2 linked regions of the Homo sapiens genome follow. The protein of the gene in region 2 purifies or fractionates together with the protein of the main gene of each other region. This does not show direct contact. Each region holds a gene or a part of one and is shown on either strand. Other genes may lie near its edges.

Evidence for each region. The genes of interacting proteins can lie anywhere in the genome.
Region 1: the proteins of POC5 (region 2) and PDHA1 purify together in Homo sapiens (co-immunoprecipitation; one large-scale study listed by IntAct). This does not show direct contact.

What each region holds. Positions count from the first base shown.
Region 1 is NC_000023.11:19,346,927-19,350,426, reverse strand, and holds part of PDHA1 (pyruvate dehydrogenase E1 component subunit alpha, somatic form, mitochondrial isoform 1 precursor), read right to left. Parts: intron 1,116-3,500; coding exon 1,056-1,115; intron 491-1,055; coding exon 317-490; intron 1-316. UniProt on the Homo sapiens protein: The pyruvate dehydrogenase complex catalyzes the overall conversion of pyruvate to acetyl-CoA and CO(2), and thereby links the glycolytic pathway to the tricarboxylic cycle.
Region 2 is NC_000005.10:75,707,438-75,710,937, reverse strand, and holds part of POC5 (centrosomal protein POC5), read left to right. Parts: intron 1-3,062; coding exon 3,063-3,201; intron 3,202-3,500. UniProt on the Homo sapiens protein: Essential for the assembly of the distal half of centrioles, required for centriole elongation. Acts as a negative regulator of centriole elongation.

The DNA.
Region 1 (3,500 bases), on a different chromosome or scaffold from region 2:
GGGTGTGTTGGTGTGCACCTGTGGTCCCACATACTCGGGAGGCTGAGGTGGGAGGATTGCTTGAGCCCAGTGGACAGAGGCTGCAGTGAGCCAAGATCACACTGTACTCTAACCAGAGGCTGCAGTGAGCCAAGATCACCACTGTACTCTAACCTGGGCGACAGAGAGAGACTGTCTCAAAAAAATAAATAAATAAAAGAAAATTACATTACCAGCCTCAAACTCTTCTGATACATATGGCAGGGTAAAGCCCAATAAGTACAAGCCATACTTCAGTACCTAAATAACACAGTTCCACCACAAACCTACCACTCACCTGACCATCACACAAGTGACAGAAACCACGAATAATTTTCTGTTTATACAGCTGATCTGCTTTCAACTCCATTCGGCGTACAGTCTGCATCATCCTGTAGTATTTGAGCCCATCCTCCCTGGTGAGCACTGTTGTGACAGGAGGGCCTTCTTCCAGCCGGTGAAGGTCACATTTCTGAAATGGAATAAGGTAGTTATTATCCTCCACATACTACATTGCAAACACTGTTGACCACTCTAAGATCTAACTCCATTGCAAATAATATTGAACTTGAAAAACTGCAAAGGAGCACATCAGTAATGCTTCATATCGCCTCTGTTCCTTAAATCCATAAACCTCACTGTGCAATGAGATGGGGCTTGGGGGAAGGAAATCTTTCTAAGATGATTTTCACTGAAAGCCCCTAGAAGCCAACTGAGTTATAGGTTGAAAGAACCTTCAAAGAAACAACTAAGACTCTTCTTATTCAAATATTTCACTGAATTACATTCCAAACTTTTGAATAAGCTTTTATTTTTATTTTCATTTTCTAGCTCCTCCCCCTTCCCCCCACAGAACAACAGCAAGCTGCTAATAATAAATTCTAGTTTTCGTGAAGCTTCTCTGAACTTCTGATCCTGGAACATTTAGAAGAAAATGATGACTAAGCATGAACATCAAAATGTTCTATTCTAAAGGTAAAACTGTATATCAGAGTGTACCTGTGAAAAAATTATTAACAAAGTAAAACACCTCTTACCTTAATTTCAAATGTAGCATCATTTGCAAAATTACGGGATGCTACCAGCACTCTGCTTGCCTTAAAAGACAAAAATATACAAACAAATCAGTACTTTTTAATTGTCAGCTATTTTGGAAAGTATAATAATCAGTTATCAGAATGAAGTTATGGAAATTTAATAAGCCCCAACATATTCATAGGCTTCTCTTCCACCCTGTGCACTGTGTTTGCATCTTCCTTGGCCTCCAAAATGAATCCATGCTTTGGCCAATGAAACAGGATTATCCCGCATCTGAAGGCAAGCAGCGCAAAGAGGGGCAAAAAACAAACCCATCCTTTGTTTTCAAAGAAATTATAGTGAGAATATAATGAAATTAGTGGCTAAAGAGACTAGATCATCTGTGAGCTGTGTCTGTTTATGCCATTCTTTTGTTTGTTTGTTTTGAGACGGAGTTTTGCTTTTATCACCCAGGCTGGAGTGCAGTGGTGCGATCTCGGCTCACTGCAACCTCCGCTTCCCGGGTTCAAGTGATTTCTCCTGTCTCAGTCTCCCGAGTAGCTGGGATTACAGGTGCCCACCACCACGCCCGGCTAATTTTTATATTTTTAGTAGAGATGGGGTTTCACCATGTTGGCCAGGCTGGTCTCCAACTCCTGACCTCAGGTGATCCACCTGCCTTGGCCTCCCAAAGTACTGGGATTGCAGGCATGAGCCACTGCGTCTGGCCTTTTCATGCCATTCTTAGTCATAACCAGATACTGTTCATTTTGAGCAAGCCAAAATTATACTTCAAATAAAACTATGATTTAATCTCCACTCTAGGCAAACTTGACTCTTCTATCAAATTGGATCTGTAAGAAAAAATATTTTAAATTGATTGAAGTATGAGATAAATACTTTAGGGAGACAAGACAAAAGAAAAGATACTTAGCACTCTCTGACTTAAACACAATGGGCTTGAGCCAGCTGTTTTATAATTTATAATTTGAACAGCCTAAATCTTGGACAGGCTCCTCCTGAAGCCCCAGTAGAAATGTTCTCTGAAACACTGTTCTCTTGATGTTTGGGTGGCTGTCACTGTTTGGAGGTAAAAAGCTTGGAGGCGGGGGGTGAGAAATGATTCCTTTCCAGTTTTACAACTGAGCAAACCTGCTCACAGCAAAAGTATTCTATGTAATGGCTAAGGTTTAGGTTAGACCACAAAATTTATCCAGTAGTATTATCATACTATTTTAGCTCCCTTCTGCCACATTCTCACACACTGACGTGTAAACCAACATGATTTCTCCATAAAAAGCACATCTGATGTGTTCATACCTTACCTAATCCAGCACTGGACTGATCTTGGTGAGAAGAGTTAAGACTGATCTGCCAAGTATACCCTGGAGTGTACAAGCCAATAGGCAGAAAGCTAATTACGTATATCTTCACCCCTCAATAGACCATTATTGGACAAAGCCAACAAACACAGACAATGACAGTGCTGGAGGAAAACAACTGAAATACTAGGAATCAGTGTTTCAGTTAACTTACAGGCAGAGACAGTCCACTAATGTATCTCAGAAAAAGTGAAGGAAATTTAGGAATTTGGGAAGAAGTAAAGCTGAGAGAAGGTGAAACAGCAAATCAATGGTTATATTTAGCAATCAAACAGATGTGTTATTCTTGGCAGTTAATAAATATTTTGTGGGGCCAGAAATTTATTGTATTGTGAAATAAATTTCCAAATACAACTACAGAAACTGCAGTTTTTGGAAGGCAGGAGTCCAAACCAGCCAGGCGACAGTAACAGAGAAAAGGTAACTTCTTTCTCAATCCTAGAGTTGAAACAATGAGGCAGGATAATGCTATACAATAAAGAGCAAGAAGGGGCCCAGTGCTGTGGCATGCGCCTGTAATCTTGCGCCTGCAAAGATTAGGACTGCCAGAAAGCTACTTAGATACTTTCTCCCATGGCTTCATTACTGTGTATCTCAAAAATAAGAACCACTGATATGAGTGAAAGGAACAAAGTTAAAGAAGCTAAAAGTCCTATCAGAAGTGTGTGTGTATCATTTCTGAGTGAGAGCTTGTTGAAAAGATAAGTTTACCATTCATTTTCTCTGGAGAGCCATAAAAAGATTCTCTGTTAAATGGGATTCCTCTCTGACAGAGACCACGAACAACCCACTCAAATTTTAAAAAATAAAAACTAGGCCGGGCATGATGGCTCACACCTATAATCCCCAGCACTTTGGGAGGCCAGGGTGGGAGGACCACTTGAAGCCAGGAGTTCAAAGCCAGCCTGGGCAACATGAGACTCTCATCTCTACAAAAATAAATATTAAAAAATTAGTCAGGTATGGTGGCACACACCTGAGGCTACAGTGAGCTATGACTGTGCCACTGCATTCCAGCCTAAAAAAAAAAATTAATTAAAAAAAAGTAAAACTTTAACTTCCTAAATACATAGGAACCATTCA
Region 2 (3,500 bases):
TCTCTTATCCAGAGCAGAAGTCAGACTAGGGAAGCCACAAGTGAAAGCCACTGACTTCCACTTCTCCCTCCGTTCCTACATGCTAGAGGTGGTGATAGGCTAACTCTGAGTAGAGCTGACTTGGCTAAATCTAGTTGCAACTGACACCACAGCAGGAACACTATAAAAAGTTTATGAACCTCACAATATAAGATCACCATCATATTAATCTGCTCAGGCTACCATAACAAAGTACCATAAATTCATAGGCTTAAACAACAGACATTTATCTTCTCACAGTTCTGGAGGCTAGAAGTCCCAGATCACAGCCCAAAAGGGTCAGTTTCTGGTGAGGGCTCTCTTTGTGGATTGCAGACAGGTGCCTTCTTGCTGTATCTTTGCATGGCCTTTCCTCAGTACAGTATGTGCAGGTGGGAGGAGAGCATGCACAAGGTTCCTGGTGTCTCTTCTGATGAGTACATTAATGCTCTCAGGGCCCCAACCAATGACCTTATTTAACCTTAATTACTTTCTTGAAGGCCTCATCTCCAAATACAGCCACACTGGGTGTTAGGGCTTCAGCATATGAATTTTGAGGGGACACAAACATTCAGACTCCGTAACTCCATAACAGCCACACTTTTATATATTCTTAGCCAAAATCAAAAGTATATTTTGGGTGTTTGGGAAGTATAATAGTGCTTTAACAGAAACCAAGTAAGGGTGGTTTAAGTGGGTTCCTTACAGTTTCATTCTGTCTCTCATAAATTCTGAGCTGATACGTAGTCCTGAGATCATCTGAGGACCCAATCCCTTCTCTCTTTTTGCTGTACCATGAGCTGTTGACCGTGTTTGCATTGTCAGGTACTGGTGCACTGACAGTGTACTACCACTAGCCCATGGGAAGAGGGGACCAGCAGGAAGCAGCTTCGTTTTTAAGGACTTCACCTAAAGTTGTACACATCATTTCCAGTTGAATCCCATAGACCAGGTCTCTTGGCCACACCTAGCTGCAGAGGAGGCTGGGAAATGTAGCTGGGTGGCCATTTGCCCAAATCAAACCCTGGGGCTTTATTAAGTTAAAGAAATTAAAAAGAAATGGATGCTGCTGGATTAGTTACAGTCTCTATGCACTTGAAATTTTATGTATTAGTTTATTAGGACCAACACACACATTCAGGTTTATAGGAACTAGTAAATATCTTGTGCATGGCCCCAATTTATTAAGCTCTTTGGGAATTTCTTTTTGATAATTAGAAAACCAATATGCTTTGGGAAGTGTATTTTTTTTAACCTAAGGATATTTAAATCTATTTAAATAATCATAGTTACTTTTGTCAATGTAAAAATTAAATGTTGGTGCTCGCTTCAGCAGCACATATACTAAAACTGGAGCCACACAGAAAATTAGCATGGACCCTGTGCAAGGAGGACATGCAAATTTGTGAAATGTTCTATAATTTTTTAATAATTTTTTTAAGTTTTATAATATAAAAAAAGTTGTATTGTGATATCCTAAATGATTTGTTTCCTAATAAGAGCCTTCTGTCTCAGTGATAACCATTATGTAAAATACTGATTTTTATTTGCTACTAGGAAATGTAAGTTTAAAACTCAGACAGATGTTTATTCTCATGAAGGTGACATCACTAACAAAAATGGTTGATTATAGCAATATGAAGGAGATTCTGGTTGAATTTTCTAAAGATTTTCTCTTTGAAATATCTCTCTCTTCCTCTTCTGTCGTTAGCCTTAAAATATATAAAAATCAGTATTTGCTATACCTAATGTTTACTGCGTGTAAGTATCTATGTTAAATATGTGAATCAGGCCGGGTGCAGTGGCTCACGCCTGTAATCCTAGCACTTTGGGGGTCCAGGGCTGTGGATCAAGAGGTCAGGAGTTCAAGACCAGCCTGACCAACATGGTGAAACCCCATCTCTACTAAAAGTACAAAAATTAGGTGGGCGTGGTGGTACAAACCTGTAATTCCAGATACTCAGGAGGCTGAGGCAGGAGAATCGCTTGAACCTGGGAGGCAGAGGTTGCGGTGAGCCAAGACCATGCCACTGCACTCCAGCCTGGGCTACAGAGCAAGACTCCATCTCAAAAAAAAAGAAGAAAAAAATTGTAAATCAAGAAATCAAGGTTGAAGCGCAAACCAGGTCACTCTTGTACATGTAATTGCCATAAAAGCTAGCAGTTTTCAAATATATAAAAGCATAAGCTTTTTTAAAAAACAATTTTACTTAAAATTCCGATATAAAAAAGCAGATGAAAACAAAACTACAGTAGTATAGATTTATTTTGTAAATTCAAATGCAATCAGTTAATAAAAACAGTTAAGCTGCCTTGATAAATGTACATTTGAAATTGGGGGGTAATAGAAGGCCATTGCAGTTTTATAAACTTAAGTATCCAGTTTGCTTCTATATTTTGTTTAGGTTACATAATTTTTTTTCAGTTCCAAAAATGGTATCTTTTTAATAGCATGTCTCATCTTCAATTAAACCAATCTGACATATAAAATTAAGTGATAGAAAATTTTTGATTCAGTGTTGAGTCACTCACAGAACCTTATCACCTCTTCATACTTTGTTGTTGTTTCCCCAGAGACAGGATCTTGCTCTGTCACCCAGGCTGGGGTGCAGTGGTGCCATCTTGTCTTACTGCAGCTTCCAGTTCCTAGGCTTAAGTGGTCCTCCTGCCTCAGCCTCCTGAGTAGCTACAACTACAGGCACACACCACCACACCTAGCAAATTTTTGTAAAAAATTTATTGTAGAGATGAGGTCTCACTTTGTTGCTCAGGCTTCAAGCCATCCTCCTGCCTCAGCCTCTCAAAGTGCTGAGTTTACAGGCATGAGTCACTGCACCCAGCCCTCTTCAAACTGTTAATCATAAATATAAAAATCACACAAGAAGCACTCGAGGAACTCAAGCTTGGAATAAGTGGTAAAACTTTGTAATATAATAAGCATGGGACTCTATTATGGTAATTAAATTTCTTTAAAACAAATTCAGTTGAATATATTATAACATTGTAACTGTTACACTACATTATTGATTATTGGCCTCTCTTAGGAAGAATATGAAGAACTGCTTCATTATGCTATAGTGACTCCAAATATTGAACCCTGTGCTTCACAGTCATCTCATCCTAAGGGAGAATTGGTGCCAGATGTCAGAATTTCTACAATTCATGATATTCTTCATAGTCAAGGTTATATATATTTTTCAAGATATCTCTTAATTTAAAATATTACTGAGTTTATTAATGATACTGACAGGATTGTGAAAATGCCTGTCCAGATCAGTGATTCTTCTCAACCATTTATGTGTATTAGTATCATCTAGGGGAGCTTTTTACATTTTAATATATTATTCCTGACTCTCGTGTGACAGCTTGATTTTTCTTTGAACTTCATTTGACTCTTACTTTTATGAAGAATAATAAAGTTGAAGCAATGCTATGGCAACTGCATGGCTTTTTGGTATGTTGTATCTCAGTACTTGTTCCAA